Regions from separate parts of the Homo sapiens genome. Here all the other regions are linked to region 3. The links come from fine-mapping of genetic effects on gene expression. A gene starts in region 3. Each other region holds a variant in brackets. All regions are shown on one strand. Distances are from middle to middle.

Region 1 (5,601 bases), 29 kb before region 3:
AATCCACTCCTTGTTTAGCATATCATCAAGAAATAACCATAAAAATGGACAACCAAGGCCAGGCGAAGTTGCTCATGCCTGTAATCCTAGCACTTTGGGAGGCCAAGACCAAAGGATCACGTGAGGTCAGGAGTTCGAGACCAGCCTGGCCAACATGGTGAAACCCTGTCTCTACTAAAAATACAAAAATCAGCTGGGTGTGGTGGCAGGCGCCTGTAATCCCAGCTACTCCGGAAGGTAAGGCAGGAGAATCGCTGGAACCGGGGGGCAGAGGTTGCAGTGAGCTGAGACCCCGCCATTGCACTCCAGCCTGGGCGAAAGAATGAAGCTTTGTCTCAAAAAAAAAAAAAAAAAAAAAAAAGGCAACCAGCAGCCCTTGGGGCTGCTCTGTCTATGGAGTAGCCAGTCTTTTATTTTTTTACTTTCTTAATAAACTTGCTTTCACTTTAAGGACTCGCCCTGAATTCTTGCTTGTGCAAGATCCAAGAACCCTCTATCGGGTTCTGGATCAGGACCTCTTTCCGTTAACAGTTTTGTTTTATTTTTTAGAGTTTTGATCTGCCACCCAGGCTGGAGTTCAGTGGTGCAATGTCACTTCGCTGCAGCCTCAACCTCCTGGGCTCAACTGATCCTCCTGCCTCAGCCTCCTGAGTAGCTAGGACCACAGGCATGCACACACCACATCAGCTAATTTTTAAATTTTTTTTTGTAGAGATGAGGGTTTCACCATGTTGCCCATGCTGGTCTTTAACTCCTGGGCTCAAGCAATCCTCCCATCTCAGCCTCCCAAAGTGCTGGGATTACAGGCTTGAGCCGCCATGAAAGCCTGCCCTAGGTTTTTTGTTTTTTTTGTTGTTGTTGTTGTTTTTTTTTTTTTTTTTTTTAGATGGAGTCTGGCTCTGTCACCCAGGCTAGAGTGCAGTGGCGTGATCCCAGATCAATTGGCTCACTGCAACAGCTGCCTCCCAGGTTCAAGCGATTCTCCTGCCTCAGCCTCCTAGTTTTGCTTTCTTAATAGCACTAATCCCTATGTGAAATCACCTCCTTCATTCCTCTCCCATACTGGGATGCTGGTTCATCCAACAGAGCCAGGAACACAAAGGGCTCCTCACTGCTAAACCCAAGCAGAGCATCACTGACCTATTTAATAGAAACCTGCACCATGAAACCTGAGTGTAAATTTTCCAGCAAATTTCAGAAAACTGATGGATCCTCTCTTGGTCATTTCTGCTTATGATCTTTAGGAGAAATTAGCTGAAAGGGACATGAAAGTGTTGGTGGAGTCTCAATTGCTCATTTTAATGATGAGGAGGCCGGGCACAGTGGCTCATACCTGTAAACCCAGCACTGTGGGAGGCCGAGGCAGGCGGATCACCTGAGGGCAGGAGTTCGAGACCAACCTGGCCAACATGGTGAAACCCTGTCTCTATTAAAAATACAAAAATCAGCCGGGCGTGGTGGTGCACACCTGTAATCCCAACTACTTGGGAGGCTGAGGCAGGAGAATGCTTGAATCCAGGAGGCGGAGGTTGCAGTGAGCCCAGATTGCGCCACTGCACTCCAGCCTGGGTGACACAGCGAGACTCCATTTCAAAAAAATAAATTGATGGGGAAACAGGCCCACAGAAGGGAAGTAAATCGGGAAATTTCATGAAGCAAGTCCGCTTTTACACACACACACACACACACACACACACACACACACACACACACGGCTTCTGTTAAGCTGCAGGCTCTAATCCTGGCACTTCCCAGGCTTCGCCTCAAGGAATATGTTTATCCGGCTAATACAGGCCGAGCGCCCGCTGTGCGGGTGGGAGGCGGCGGGATTAACGCGGCGGCCCCTCCCCGGGCCCCCGCCGGGCTTGCGTTCCAGCGACCAGAACACAGACCAACAAGTAAACAAATAAGACAAAGGCAGAAAAAGATGAGTGTGAAGGAGCTAACCAGCCAGGAAGACGAGAATAGACAGGGCAGAGGGGAGGTGGGAAAGGGACTTCGGGGACAGGACCCCGGACGCCGGCACACAGCCGAGACCCGATCCGCGAGGGCAGGGCTGGCACCGCGGTCCCCGGCCTGGAAACGCGCCCCCGCCGGGAGCTCCGCGGACCCCGCTGCGCATCCCTGCGGATCCTGCTCCCATCCTGCTTCTGCAGCGAGGCCTTCCCGGGCCCCTCCACGACAGGCTCCGGGCCTGTTCACCTGCTCAGTCCCCTCCGGAGAGCGCGAGGCCAATGCGCCGGCCGCACGGAGACCCGGGGACACGCGCGCCACGCAGAAGGCACCGACCCCCGCGCGCCCGGCAGGCGGCACCGGCCCATCCGTTTGTGCGCGCGGCTCGGGACGGCCCCGGCGCGGCTGGAGGGGGCCTGGCTGAGCGCCCCGCGTCCCCGGGTCCCGCGTCCCCGCCCCCCGGCCCCCGGCCCAGGCTTCGTAGGCCCCGGCGCCCTGCACCTACCGAACGCGCTGGGCCGTGACCGCGTTGCCGGTGTGTGGCCGCAGCACCGCCAGGAACAGGAGCCGCATGCCGCCGCCGCCGCCCGGGCCATCGACCGGCCCCGCCGCCGCCGACCAGGCCCCGGGGCCGGCGCAGACGCGGACGGCGGGGGAGCCGGGGCGGCTGGGTCTGTCCCGCCCGCCCCTCCCCGAGGCCGCGCCCCAGCTCGCAGGTTCCGGCGCCAGGCGGGGAGGGGGACAGGAACCGGGGGC[C/G]TCGGGCGGCGCGAGCCCTGGGTGCGGGGTGGCGCGGGTGTGCCCCGTGGGGTCCATCACCAGGGTAGCCGCGGTCTGTTTCCACCTGGACCAGGACCAGCGGTGACCACAGTCCCTTCCACGGGGACCAGGACCATCGGTGACCACAGTCCCTCACACGGGGACCAGGACCAGCGGTGACCACAGTCCCTCCCAAGAGGACTAGGACCAGCAGTGACCACGTTCCCTTCCACAGGGAACAGGCAGCGGTGACCACAGACCATTCTCACGGGGACCAGGACCAGCGGTGACCACAGTCCCTCCCAAGGGGACCAGGACCAGCGGTGACCACAGTCCCTTCCCACAGTGACCAGGACCAGGGGCGGCCTTGGTCCTTTCCCACAGGGAACAGGAGCAGGGGTGGCCATGGTCCGCTCCCATGGAAACCAGTGATGGCTTCCATGGGCTTCATTGGGAAATCAGGGCTTCACGGAACACCGGGTTGGCTGCAGGTCTGTGCCCACCGGGACCAGCAGAGACCTCGGGTTCCGTCCCACAGGGTGCTGCAGAGAGGGGCTCTCAGCCTCATTTTCCATGACAACCTGAGTGGGGCCTTGGTCCGCACGAAGCCCAGGATTCCTTTCTAGTCCCATTCCAGGGAACGTGGCATGATCAGTCCCAAATTCCTTCCCAGGCTAGACTACCCTAAAACTAACCCGAGGAGGGGAACATGGGGACTGTGTGAGGAGACAGTAGAAACCCATTTCAGGGCCGCACCTGTCGGGTGAGAAAGATGTTGGAGAGGGGAACCTGGGGTTCATCAGGGTACATGGGCTGCACCTGGTCTGGATCTCCAAACTAGGATACCTTGAGTGAGAGAAATAGGGAACTGAAGGAGGCCTCTGGCAAAATGCCATCTGTGGATTTAAACAAGCACTCCCCAAAACAGCTGTTAAGTGTTTACAAAGATGCACATGTATTTACAGATGTGGGACATTCTAGTGGGTGCCCAATATTTCCATTGACCTTCAAACTTGATTTTCTGTCATCCCCTAAATACCTTCCAGCCTCAAAAAGGTAAAGTGGGAATGAAGAAAGCCATGACATGGGATAACCACCGTCAGTGGCAGGTCTCCGGCCTCCCTACGCAGCATGGTGACCCCCAGGCTTATCAAGATATAAAAGTCCATCCTGGAGGGCACATTCGGCTCCGCAGGCTTCTCCCAGGTACGTCCACCACTCTGCCTCTCAGTGTGGCATGGAGTAGGGAAGAGTTGTATATCATTGTAGAACAATCAAAATCCTGTCCTCCTCTCACTCTCAAAAAAACACCCAGGATTTTGCTCTTCTTCCTGGTATTTCAGCTTCCCAGGCACCAGGCAGGCAGGCCACATCCTTTTTAAAGGACAAAAGCGATCTGAAAATATTATCATTCTGCTAAACAACTTAATACTTTCCAACAGAATTACATAAGCAAACAGGAAAGGGGACAAGTTGCACAGAGCTGTCACAACCCCCTTCTAACGACATTTTAGAAAAAGAGTTTTGACCCCGGGCACGGCGGCTGACTCCTATAATTCCAGCACTTTGGGAGGCCGAGGTGGGTGGATCACTTGAGGCCAGGAGTTCAAGACCAGTCTGGCCAACATGGCAAAACCCCGTCTCTACCAAAAATAGAAAAATAGATGGGCATGGTGGTACAAGCCTGTAGTCCTAGGTACTTGGGAGGCTGAGGCATGAGAATCATTTGAACCCAGGAGGCGGAGGTTGCAGTGAGCCGCGATCATGCCACTGCGCTCCAGCCTAGGCAGTAAAGCAAGACTCAGTGTTAAATAAATAAATAAGTTTTGAGTGGACTCCTGATATATTTGCTACACACCAAGAAGAGGCAATAAAACGCAGTGTCTGGTGTGGTATACAGAAGTAGAGGGGGGCACTTGCCCATGATCTTCCCCTATTTCACCTTGCCCATGGGATATTAAAAGCTAAATGTGAACAGATACATTTCTGATTTTACAAAGGCGACTTCAGCATGAGCCCAGAAAGGAACCTCCCTAAGGAGAGTTGAACTGGCAGCCTTGTGGGCTCAATATCATCCTTAGATGTATTTAGGCTACACCGTGTTTTTCATAAAAGCTGAGCTATTATTTTTTGTTTGTTTTGAGACAGTGTCACTCTGTCATCCAGGCTGGGGGTGCCGTGGTGTGATTATGGATCACTCCAGCTTCCACCTCCTGGGCTCAAGTGATCCTCCCATCTCAGCCTTCCAAAAAAGTAGCTGGAACCATAGATGTGCACCACCATGCTGGGCTAATTTTTTGTATTTTTTGTAGAAGTGGGGTCTCACTATGTTGTCCAGGCTGGTCTTGAGCTCCTGGGCTCAAGCAGTCAACTCACCTCAGCCTCCCAGAGTACTGGAATTACAGGCGTGAGCCACTATACCTGGCCAAGCCACCATTTTTTAATTGGGAGCTTTCATATAGAAGTTGGAATTTCTGATATCTGTTAAAAAATGAGAGATCTGATTAAATGAAGCCACCATCCTGTGGCTGACTGAAGCTGGGAAGCAGCTGCCTGCTTAAGATGAAATCTGAATGTGCCATTTCACACAGTGCTTGAAGGCTCACTTCAATTCCTTGATAACCTCGATCTGTATTCTTGTGTTTAGAAAAAATTTGAAGTTTATTTTTACGTAAATTAAGTTCAGAAGAAGGTGGCCCAAGCCTAATATAGTGGCTGTACCATCACCAGGAACCCAGACTTTCCTCTGTCTACTCCATCATGCTAGTGTTTAGCTTCTAGTCTCAAGATCACCTTATCAAGGAATTGATAAGGAGTAGGACTGCTACAGCTCCACCCATCACATCAACATTCCAGGCAGCAGGAAGGAAGGAAAGGCAAAAGTGGTGCACT
Region 2 (6,094 bases), 81 kb before region 3:
ATAGAGATGAAGTTAACACAATCCGGCCAGGCGCGGGGACTCACACCTGTAATCCCAGCACTTTCGGAGGCTGCAGTGAGCTGAGATCGCACCACTGCACTCCAGCGTGGGGGACAGAACAAGACTCGTCTAAAAAATAAATAGTTAAATAAATTTAAAAGAACAACCCGTGACCCTTCACAAAATAAAAGGATGAGAGTGTGGCACCCCATCTACTGGGGCGACTCAAGAAACAGGAACATCAACAGGAAATTTCCAGAGAAGATTTTTGTTTTTTTAAACAATTAAATGTATGGAGTAAACAACTCAGAATGATTGTTCATTTTATTCAGAAGATTCCCCTACCATGCTCTGCCTGGGCAATTTAATGAATTACAAACAATACTTGTGATGGTACCACACATTTGAGCCCCGGGTCATGGAAAAAGTAAACTCAAGATCTATGCTCTGGAATGGATGCGTTTTTCATACTTCTGAGTTCCTTTCAAACTTCTCAATTCCCAGGGATCTCACATGGGGGCAAACAAACAAACAAAAAAACCCACACAGACATAAAGAACATTTGCAGTTCCATCCAGAAATCTCCAATGAGGGCTCACCTTCATAGAAGCTATTAAAAATGATTAGTGGCGGGGCACGGTGGCTTACGCCTGTAATCCCAGCACTTTGGGAGGCTGAGGCGGGTGGATCACAAGATCAGGAGATCAAGACCAGCCTGGCTAACACGGTGAAACCTCGTCTCTACTAAATATACAAAAAATTAGCTGGGTGTGGTGGCGGGCACCTGTAGTCCCAGCTACTCGGGAGGCTGAGGCAGGAGAATGGCGTGAACCCGGGAGGCAGAGCTTGCAGTGAGCCGAGATCACGCCACTGTGCTCCAGCCTGGGCAACAAAGCGAGACTCGGTCTCAAAAAAAAAAAAAAAAAAAAGATTAGCTTCCTGGGACATGATCAATCCCTGGAGCTTCTCCTGCAGAGGTGAGAGGGTTGGCACAGAAAAGAGGTAGTCTAGAGGTGAAACCCACGTGTTCAATGCATTTTTATGTTTCCAGGAGGGTGGGAACTCTAATAAAAGGTATGGTCTGTGTAGTTTCAGCTGCTGCCAAGATGACTTTCCGAGGTAATCAGACATAAAGCAATGGGGCCATGCAGGAAGAGGGAGAAGTAATAAGTAGCTCAAAAGACAGCATGCTTCTACTGCAGACTTTAGGGATAAGGAGACACGCAGCTCATTCCGATTAGGCCAGCGCTAACATCTGCACTGACTTGTGGAGCTCACCTGTACAGGAACTGCACTTGTGACAGCCAATGAGATCTGTCTTGCTTTCTATATTTTAATTTCCAAAAGAATTTTGATGAGTAAATGTACACAAAGTAAAATTACACTTTAGGTTTTGCCTAACACAGCAACTTGAAGAAGTTACTTTTCTTTCACAAGTGCCAAGGCAAAGTAGATAAATTAGGCCCCAGAAGGGGGTGACTCAAAGTTTCCAGAAAAAAAAAAGAAAAAAAAAAAAAGAAAAACCTCACTCTAAAGATAACACCTGAAAACTTAGCCTTTGCAAAGCATATTGATGGGCCATTATGAATGACACTGTGCTTTTTTTTGTTTGAATTTGATAACTGCTTCAAGCAATATTTACTCAAACAGGATTTTTTAAATATAGCTCATAAATAAATATTTGAGTTTAGATAATGTCCTCTTAGAAGAATGCTTATTAGGAAAAGAGTGTGAAAACAGGCATGAGGGGTTTTGAGCCCAATGGAGACATATTAAACCATAACCATTGCTTCTCCTGGTAGAAGCGTCCATTAAGATACACATTTAATTTGTTCGTGGGTGTTTTTTTCTTCTTGGTGAAATTTTTACATTTTCTGGTGAAATTCTGATGAATTTAGACAAAGCGCTCTAAACGTGGACTAGAACTAGAAGTACTCAAGTTTGCATCCTGAATATCTATTACATATTGTAGCAAGAAATCAAAATCCTACATAAAATATTTTCAAACTTCCCACAACATATATTTCAGGATCAGAAATGTGAAATGAATCAAATTCTTGAAAATGTCAAATCAATATTATAATATCAGAAACTGGCCAGCACAGACGCTCACGCCTGTAATTCTAGCATTTTAGGAGGTTGATGCAGGAGAACTACTTGAGGCCAGGAGTTCAAGAGTAGCCTGGGCAACGCAGTGAGACCTTATCTCCACAAAAAAAAAAAAGTCAAAATTTCAGCCAGGTGTGGTGGCATGGGCCTGTAGTCCCAGCTACCCAGGAGGCTGAGGGGGAGAGGATCGTCTGAGCCCACGAGTTTGAGGCTGCAGTGAGCCACGATCACGCCACTGCACTCCATCCAGCCTGGGCAACAGAGTGAGACTCCTTTAATAAAGAAAAAAAAAAAACACTTAAAAGATATATTATAATATCACAAACCAACATAGTAATGCCATCCCAAAACATAACCTACGTTGATCACGCGTGCTAGGCATTAACAGCCTAGCATGCTGACCTGGTGAGGAGCCCACTAGGATTGTATATTTTACAAAGTAGGTACAATGTCAAATTAAGGCTGATATAAACAACACTAAAAAATAATGACTTGAGCATAAACAAAGGCATTTCAAATTAAAAGAGATAAAACCGTCTTTACTGAAATCCAATCAAACTAACTTGTGAAGGTCAGCCAGAGATAGGTAGGCGATCATAAACCCAGCTCCCAAGACAACATTTCCACAAGAGCAGCCCTGGGGGCTGAAGTTCACTCACCGGTTACAAACTAACCCTCACTGGGCACATGTCCGTTCATGTGTCCTCCAGGATCAGATATCGTGTGAGTAAGTTTCAGAAATCCTGAAACAGAGCTGCCCTGAGCACACAACAGCCCTCGCCACACGTGGCCACGTGGCTGATCCAGGGCACGTCTAAGGCCCTGTTTGAATTAAGATGTGCTGTGAGTGTAAAATACACACAGGATTTCAAAGACTTCACACACAAAAAGGTAAAATATGATGTCACTAGTAACTTTCATATTGATGACATATAGTGGGTGTGTACTAGGAAATTCGGCCTTGACCAAACAGAGGCATGACCTGCACCCTTAGCTTCTGGGAAACGGCGTAAGTGGTGTAATACCTGACAGCTGAGTGTTTAGGGTGGGAAATGGGCCAGGCGCGGTGGCTCATGCCTGTAATCCCAGCCTTTTGGGAGGATGAGGTGGGCAGATCACTTGAGGTCAGGAGTTCGAGACCAGCCTGGCCAACATGGTGAAACCCAGTCTCTATTAAAAATACAAAAATTAGCCAGGCATAGTGGCAGTC[A/G]CCTGTAATCCCAGCACTTTGGGAGGCCGAGGCAGGTGGATCGCCTGAGGTTGGGAGTTCAAGACCAGCCTGGCCAACATGGTGAAACCCCATCTCTATTCAAAATACAGAAATTAGTTGGGTGTGGTGGTGGGCATCTGTAATCCCAGCTACTTGGGAAGCTGAGGCAGGAGAATCGCTTGAATCCGGGAGCCGCAGGTTGCGGTGAGCCGAGATCGCACTACTGCACTCCAGCATGGGCAACAGAGAAAGACTCTGTCTCAAAAAAAAAAAAAAAAAAAAAAAAAAAAGACTGTTTTCATGCTTTAACCATCACCTGGACACCAGTGACTCACATGGCTGTGTCCCCAACTGTGCCCTCCTCTGAGGACAGTCCTACATTCTCAGCTCTATTCTGGATATTTACCCGAGTCCAATATTTGTCACTAAGTCAATACATCCAGAACCAAATGATTCAGTTCCTCTCTTTTTCCCCCTCCAAATTCTATTCCTTGATTTCTTCCAAACTGTATTGATAAAAATGTTAGGTTGTATGAACGCTCTTAAACCCCTCTTTATTTCTTCCTTACTGACTGTGGTCTGCCAATACAAAAGTTACCTGTACCACTGTGTTTATGTTTTTTAAAAAAAGTCTTTATCAAAGTACATTTGCAGGTAAAATGGCACATAATTATAGGTGAAATGGCATGATATTGGTAATTTTTGAAATTATTCTCGAAAACATTGTATGTGTGTGTGTGAGTGTAGGTGTGTGTGTGTATTCAGGAGGAAGTAGAGTAAATAAGAATTGAGGAACAATAAACTGGGTCATGGGCACATAAAGGGCTCACTCTACTATTCTTGCTACTTCTACACATGCCTGAAAATTTCTTTAATTAAAAGTTCTGGCCGGGCACAGTGGCTCATGCCTGTATCCCAGCACTTTGGGAGGCCAAGGCGGGCGGATCACATGGTCAGGAGTTCGAGACCAGCCTGGCCAACATGGTGAAACCCCGTCTCTACCAAAAATACAAAAATTAGCTGGGCATGATGGCGGGAGCCTGTAATCCCAGCTACTCAGGAGGCTGAGGCAGGAGAATAGCTTGAACTTGGGAGGCAGAGGTTGCAGTGAGCTGAGATTGCGCCACTGTACTTCACCTTGGGTGACAGAGCAAGATTCCATCTCAAAAAATAAAAATAAAAATATTTAAAAAAACCAAAAGGTTCTAAAGGAGGAGTCGTTCCTAATCAATCAATTTAAAGGATATTCACCGGGCCTGAGACAGTATATACTATTCTCCAGGGATGCACGAGTGACTACCTCATGTCCCTTTCTCAAGAAGCTCACCACTTGAGAAGCACGGGGAAGAAAGTAAAACATGTTATACTCATTAGAGACAAGCATGAAGTGTGGCAGATGGTTACAGAGGCCATCAATTCTCCCCCTCCCTGCATCCGTGCCCTTGTAAGGCAGCATTAAAGATCCTCTCATTATGAGGTGGGGACCGTATCTCCACCCGCTGAGTTGCTTTGGTCAATGGGAAGGAGGCAAGCTTATCACAGGCAGAGGCCTGGAATGTGCTTGTGAGTTGAGGCCCGTTCTCTCTTCCTGCCGAGCCTAAAACAGGATGACAGACCCCATGGAGACAGGCCTCAGGGGTCCCCACCATCCCAGCTAAGGTCCAGGCATGGAAGTGAGGCCACCCTGCGTGTTTAAGGCAACTGGTTTGTTAAGCAGCAAAAGGTAACTGACAGAGGAAGGGAACTCATCTATGCCAATTCTGGAGGGTCAAGGAAGGATTTATGGTGGAGGATGATATTGAAGGCTGACAAGTTAGAGAAAAGGGCAATGAATTCATGGAAAAGGAGCATGCTTCCACAGGTAAAATATTTCTTTCTTTTTTTTTTTTTTTGAGACGGAGTCTTGCAGTGGCACCATCTCTGTTCACTTCAACCTCGGCCTCCTGGGTTCAAGCAATTCTCTTGCCTCAGCCTCCTGAGTAGCTGGGACTACAGGTGCACACCACCATGCCCGGCTAATTTTTTGCATTTTCAGTAGAGACAGGGTTTCGTCATGTTGGCCAGGCTGGTCTTGAACTCTTGACCTCAGGTGATCTGCCCGCCTCAGCCTCCCAAAGTGCTGGGATTACAGGTTGAGCCACTGCGCCTGGCAATTATTTCTTTAATGTCTGTCTTAACCAACACAGTTGGGTTCCCACGTTTGCTGTTTCATTTAATTTGTTGCAATATGTTGTTTTGGTTGAGGTCTATAAAGAAAATCCTGCCTCTTGCAGACAGGTAGTAGGAAAAGAAAGAGTATTTTAATGGCCTTTCCGATCACTGTAGGCATTGTTCTTGGACACTGCACCCAAACTCAGCAAGTGGCAATTTCTTAAAGTTTAGCTGCATCAGGGAACTTTTCTTTTTTTCTTTCTTTTTTTTTTTTTTGAGACAGAATTTTTGCTCTTCTTGCCCTGGCTGGAGTGCAATGGTACAATCTCGGCTCACTGCAACCTCCACCTTCTGGGTTCAAGCGATTCTCCTGCCTCAGCCTCCCGAAAGTAGCTGGGATTACAGGCACGCACCACCATGCCTGGCTAATTTTGTATTTTTAGTAGAGTCGGGGTTTCTCCATGTTGGTCAGGCTGGTCTCGAACTCCTGACCTCAGGTGATCCGCCCACCTCGGCCTCCCAAAGTGCTGGGATTACAGGCATGAGCCACTGCACCTGGCCGAACTTTTCATACTCAGTTATATTAAAGTCCATTGGTCTACCTGGTACTATGAACTGATCTTT
Region 3 (6,094 bases):
GAAACTGTACTAATCTGCATTGTCTGTATGGATTTGCCTATTGCCTATTCTGGCCATTGCATATAAATGTGATCTTGCCAGATGTGGTCTTGGCTCACTTTTTTGTTTTTTTAAACTTAGCTTTAGTTTTCTCAAATGAGGCAATGCAATCGGATTAGTTTACTATCATTCAAAAATGGCAGAGTGTATTGAGCACTGTTTGGACACTGGGTTATCACATGATTCAAATCATTTGCTTTGCTTTCATTCCATGTTTAATGTTAATTTTACTCTAGACTTTGCCTGAGCGTCAAACCTATCAGTCTTAGAAAAAATACTCAAAGATTCTGTCTCCTCTACCAACTGCAAAGTGGAAGCAGCACTGGACTCATAATTAGATATAAGCCTTTCATTGAAGTCTGAGTTCTATTGCTTTCTTTTTTATTTTTTATTTTGAGACAGTTTCGCTCTATCACCCAGGCTGGAGTGCAGTGGCGTGATCTCGGCTCACTGCAACTCCACCTCCCAGGCTCAAGCGATTCTCCTGCCTGAGCCTCTTGAGTAGCTGGGATTACAGGTGCGCAACACTACCGCCTGGCTAATTTTTGTAATTTTAGTAGAGATGGGGTTTCACCATGTTGGCCCGGCTGGTCTTTAACTCCTGACTTCAAGTGATCTGCCTGCCTTGGCCTCCCAAAGTGCTGAGATTACAGGCATGAGCCACTGTGCCACTGCACTCCAGCCTGGGTTACAAGAGCGAAACTCCATCTCAAAAAGAAAAAAAAAAAATGGCACATATGTGTGTGTGTGTGTCTATATGTACATGTTCAAGGACATATATTAGTATCCAATAATAAGTTAAAATACTAATATATGCCCTTGAACATGTATAGACACATATATATACACATGTATACATGCACACATATACACACACTTATATACACACATATATACATATATACACACAGATATACATATGTGTATACACACACATATATGAGAACATAAGGTGACTTGCATCATTTACATTCAACAAATGGTCAGTCATTCACTCATCCAGTTCAATCTAATACCTATTTATCATTGGCAAGTGCTGTGCCAGCCTCTAGAACTACAATCGTGGTTAAAACAAAGATCCCGGCCATCCCAGCTTTGAAGACAGGCATTCAATAGTTGCACAAAATAAGTATAAATTATAACCGGTGCTGTGGGAAAAAAGTATAGGGAGTTCCAAGGCCATAAAAACGGGGAGCTAACCTAGTGTGGCAGGGTTAGGAAAGTGATATTTGAGCTGACAGCTGGAAATGACAAGCATCAACAGACAGGTGGCAAAGGTCCAATTCGGGCATTCAATTATTCTCTCCTTAGACATTGATTAAATATATATTGCCTGCTGTGTGGCAGCACTGTGCTGACCATCAGTCTATCTGTCGGACATTTAAAAAAGTTTTTTAAAAAGAGAATGCATGCAACTTCAAGACTTACTGGCAGGATTACTTCTCCAGATGACCTACTGGCAAGCCAACTTCCCAGCTACTGGCTCCACCCTCATCTTAGCTGGAGGGAATGATGAAGGAAGAGGAGGTGGTCTTACACTAATTGAATCATTGCAGCAGCTGTGGATCACGATTCCTTTCTTTCTTGCCTTTTTTTTTTTTTTTTTTTGAGACAGGGTCTCACTATGTCACCCAGGCTGGAGTGCAGTGATGCCCTCACTGCTGAATGCAGCCTCTACCTCCCGGGCTCAAGCAATCCTCTTGCCTCAGCCTCCCAAAGTGCTGAGATTATAGGCGTGAGCCATCATCCCAGGCCGGGGTCTCAATTTCTTTTTTTTTTGTCTTTTTTTTTTTTTTTGAGACGAAGTCTCACTCTGTCACCAGGCCGGAATGCAGTGGCACAATCTCGGCTCACTGCAACCTCTGCCTCCCTGGTTCAAGCGATTCTCCTGCCTCAGCCTCCTGAGTAGCTGGGACTACAGGCGCCTGCCACCACGCCCAGCTAATTTTTGTATTTTTAGTAGAGACGGGGTTTCACCATGTTGGCCAGGATGGTATCGATCTCTTGACCTCGTGATCCGTCCGCCTCGGCCTCCCAAAGTGCTGGGATTGTAGACGTGAGCCACCATCCCAGGCCGGGGTCTCAATTTCTGAAGCCATGCTGAGGGCCATTTTTGGGCGGCACTCTTTCACTCCACTATGTGCCAGGCGCTGTCCCAGAGGCAGGGGGCACAGTGAGGAACAAAACACAAGAGAATCCTGCCATCAGGAAGCTTACACCTGTTAACACATGCAGGTTGGGGAGATAAACGAATAAATTAAAAAATGTAACAGGTAATAAGGAGAAAAGAGTAACATGATGGAATGGGATACTCGGGCCTTGGACAGGCTAGTGAAAAAAATGTTTCTCTGAAGTCAACACTTCGGTGGAAGGTTGAAGGATGAGAAGCCAGCCATGCAACCATAGATGGTGTAGGGGCAGTCTCTGGGAAAGCCTGAAACAGGCTGGAGCTTGCCTTGTTCTAAGCCAGTGAGTCTCAATGGGGGCGTATTTGCCCCCAGGAGTCCTTCGGCAAAGTCTAGAAGACATTTTCGGTTGTTAACCTGAGGTGCTAGGGGGTGGAACTGGCCCCTAGTGGATAGCAGAGGCCAAAGCTGCTGCTGAACATCGTGCAACGCACAGGACAGTCCCGTCGCTCAAAGTGCCAACGATGCACGGGTTGAGAAACCGGGTCCTCTCCAGGACTGAAGCCCAGGGCAGGGAGCACGGGGGCAGCCTGAGCAAACCCGCCTGGAGAGCAGCCGCCGTCTCAGTGTGAGTTTTGGCTGCCTACTGGGCCCCACCGAAGCCCGAAGAGGGCCAGGCTCCGGCTTCTTTGTTTAAACTCCCTTAGTCCGACTGCCTGCAGTGGCTCATGCACGTAATTCCAACACTATGGGAGGCTGAGACGTGAGGAACGCTTGATGCCAGGAGTTCGAGACCAACCTGAGCAACAAAGCGAGACCCCATTTCAAAAAACTGTTTAAAAATTAGCCACAGGCAGCGGCGAGCGCCTGCGGTCCCAGCTACCCGGGAGGCTGAGGTGGGAGGGCCGCTTGATCCTGGGAAGCTGAGGCTGCAGTGAGGCGTAACCGCATGACTGCGCTCCAGCCTGGGCGAGAGAGGGAAACCCTGTCTCAAAAAGGCAAACAAAGGCTCTCGGCCGCCAAGCTGCGGAATCCCAAGCTCCCCAAGACACGCAGTGATCCAGAATACCGGCCACCTCCTCGCCTAGTGCCCGGGGCGGGGCCGGAAGTTCCGGCGAGTGGGGCGTTGAGCAGCGGCGAGCCCGCCCAATAGGGACATCTCAGGCCCGGCAGTCTCGCGAGAAGGGCGGCGGCCCTGGGTTCTGGGACAGGTGACCCGGCGGCGGGGCGAGGCAGCTGGCGGCGTCGCATGGAGGGCTCTGGGGGCGGTGCGGGCGAGCGGGCGCCGCTGCTGGGCGCGCGGCGGGCGGCGGCGGCCGCGGCGGCGGCTGGGGCGTTCGCGGGCCGGCGCGCGGCGTGCGGGGCCGTGCTGCTGACGGAGCTGCTGGAGCGCGCCGCTTTCTACGGCATCACGTCCAACCTGGTGCTATTCCTGAACGGGGCGCCGTTCTGCTGGGAGGGCGCGCAGGCCAGCGAGGCGCTGCTGCTCTTCATGGGCCTCACCTACCTGGGCTCGCCGTTCGGAGGCTGGCTGGCCGACGCGCGGCTGGGCCGGGCGCGCGCCATCCTGCTGAGCCTGGCGCTCTACCTGCTGGGCATGCTGGCCTTCCCGCTGCTGGCCGCGCCCGCCACGCGAGCCGCGCTCTGCGGTTCCGCGCGCCTGCTCAACTGCACGGCGCCTGGTCCCGACGCCGCCGCCCGCTGCTGCTCACCGGCCACCTTCGCGGGGCTGGTGCTGGTGGGCCTGGGCGTGGCCACCGTCAAGGCCAACATCACGCCCTTCGGCGCCGACCAGGTGAGCCGCGCCCCCGCGCGCTGTCCCTGTCCCTGTCCAGCCCCTGCCCAGCCCCAGCCTCTTCCCCTGCCCCAGTCCCTGCCTCTGACCGCGGAGGGAGCCCCTTGCCCCGGGGGGCTTCTGTCTAGTGCCGAGGAATCCCGCCAGCAGGTGGGCCAAGACTGGAGGTACCGGTGTGATGGGTGCTGGAAGGGGTTTGCCTGGGGCGGGGTGAGGTCTACACACACAGTGATGGCCACAGTGGCTTTAAAGAAAAGAGAGGCCGGGCGCGGTGGCTCACGCCTGTAATTCCAGCACTTTGGGAGGCCGAGGCGGGAGGATCTCTTGAGCCCAGGACTTTGAGACCAGGTTGGGCAACACAGTGAGACCTCATCTCTACCAAAATTTAAAAATTTGCCCTCCGTGGAGGCGCACACCTGTAGTCCTAGCAGAGAAAGGAGGATTCCTTGAGCCTACGAGTTTCGGAGGCTGCAGTGAGCTAGGGTCACACCAGTGCACTCTAGCTTGGGTAACAGAGTGAGACCCCACCTCAAAAAAATAAATAAATAAAATTTAAAAAATACGCTGAGCGCAGTGGCTCACGCCTGTAATCCCAACACTTTGGGAGGCCGAGGTGGGTGGATCACCTAAGGTCAGGAGTTCGAGACCAGCCTGACCAGCCTGGCTAAAAATACAAAAATTAGCCGAGCGTGGTGGCGGGCACCTGTTCTCTCAGCTAGTCGGGAGGCTGAGGCAGGAGAATCGCTTGCACCCGGGAGGCAGAGGTGCGATGAGCCGAGATCGCGCCACTCCACTCCTCCAGCCTGAGCGACAGAGCGAGACTCTGTCTCCAAATAAAAATAAATAAATAAATAAAAAATAAATGAACGGGACCCTTCTATGTTCAGGCCCTGTAAGTTCAGACCAGAAGGCTAGGAAAGAGCAGTTGTTTGAGGAGCTTTCCAGACATGGGGATTCGCAGGTGCAGGGCCCTGGGCCAGGAAGCTGAGGGAAGGGGAAGCCCCCGTTGTTGCCTTAGCTTCCTTTACAAAGAAGTGGGAAAACACTCATATTGCGTCTTCGTGGCTTTAAAGGAGTTACGGGCTAGGTTGGGTCGGAAAGCTCAGATGAAAATGAGTTTGAATCAAGTTAGCATCAAGCTGCTCCCCTGCAACTGTAACTGCCAAGAAGTGAGGGAGGAACCACTGCAGCTCTTCAGGAGGGGCAAGGACGTGGCCACCAAGTATTATATGCAGAATAGGCCGCCTTTAAGAGCAATAGCAAAGTCAGATCGTTTCAGAAAATATAAAAAAAAGTGGGAAGTGAGGTGGAAGGCTGGGGCCGGATCATGTGAGGAGTGTTAAAGCGTTGGGGATACAGTCGAGAGCTTTACTGGGTTCCAGCAGGGAGTGATTTGTGCAGAGCAGGCACTACAGCTGGGGTAGCAGGTCAGGTCTGCTTCTTATTTTCTGAGGATTCACAAGCTAAGAATGGTTCTTAATATTTTCTTTCTTTCTTTTTTTTTTTTTTTTTTGAGGCGGAGTCTCGCTCTGTTGCCAGGTTGGAGTGCAGTGGCGCGATCTCAGCTCACTGCAACCTTCACCTCCTGAGTTCAAGCGATTCTCCTGCCTCGGCCTCCTGAGTAGTTGAGACTACACGTGCACGCCACTGTGCCCAGCTAACTTTTGTATTTCTAGTAGAGACGGGGTTTCACCGTGTTGGCCAGGATGGTCTTGATCTCTTGACCTTGTGATCTGCCTGCCTCGGCCTCCCAAAGTGCTGGGGTTACAGGCATGAGCCACGGCGCCCAGCTAGTTCTTACATTTTTAAGTGGTCGGAAACGGGATCATTTGTGACCAGTGAAAATTTTATGAAAATCAAATTTCAATCTCCATAAATAAAGCGTTATTGGAACATAGCCCCACCTGTTTCTGCAACACAGCCACTACACTGGGGCTGCTTTCACTAAGCAGTGGCAGAATTGAGTAACTGTGATGGAGACGAGATGTCTCATAGAACTCAAAATGTGAACTGCCTGCCCCTTCACAGAAGTGTGCGGATGCTTGTAGAGAATGGGTTGTGTAGGAAGTGGTGACATTAGGGACATGAGGTGGGAGTCTCTCCTAACTAGAGTGGAGGCAGTGGAGGTGGGTGA

The links. PIP is the estimated chance that this variant, and not a neighbour inherited with it, causes the effect.
Region 1: its variant is the best candidate, but not a certain one, in a credible set for the expression of SLC15A4 in whole blood (TOPMed, PIP 0.52).
Region 2: its variant is the best candidate, but not a certain one, in a credible set for the expression of SLC15A4 in liver (GTEx, PIP 0.51).

The regions. Positions count from the first base shown.
Region 1 is chr12:128,850,507-128,856,107 of GRCh38, reverse strand. GLT1D1 (glycosyltransferase 1 domain containing 1) reads right to left here and starts at 2,630. Exons shown (of 12, transcript NM_001366886.1): 1 at 2,459-2,630. The coding sequence starts at 2,526. It overlaps LOC100128276 (a long non-coding RNA gene), which reads left to right and starts at 3,013. Exons shown (of 3, transcript NR_148996.1): 1 at 3,013-3,032; 2 at 3,756-3,915. RefSeq lists an enhancer at 1,649-2,300 and silencers at 2,162-2,361, 2,552-2,651. The variant C/G (reference allele first, on the strand shown) is at 2,710.
Region 2 is chr12:128,902,139-128,908,232 of GRCh38, reverse strand. The region is part of intron 4 of GLT1D1 (glycosyltransferase 1 domain containing 1); the gene reads right to left. Among named protein-coding and RNA genes, the nearest start is that of GLT1D1, 52 kb to the right of the region's middle. The variant A/G (reference allele first, on the strand shown) is at 3,320.
Region 3 is chr12:128,821,264-128,827,357 of GRCh38, reverse strand. SLC15A4 (solute carrier family 15 member 4) reads left to right here and starts at 3,400. Exons shown (of 8, transcript NM_145648.4): 1 at 3,400-3,960. The coding sequence starts at 3,415. LOC124903083 (a long non-coding RNA gene) reads right to left here and starts at 3,414. Exons shown (of 2, transcript XR_007063602.1): 1 at 1,468-3,414. RefSeq lists enhancers at 3,490-3,649, 5,130-5,209, 5,270-5,389.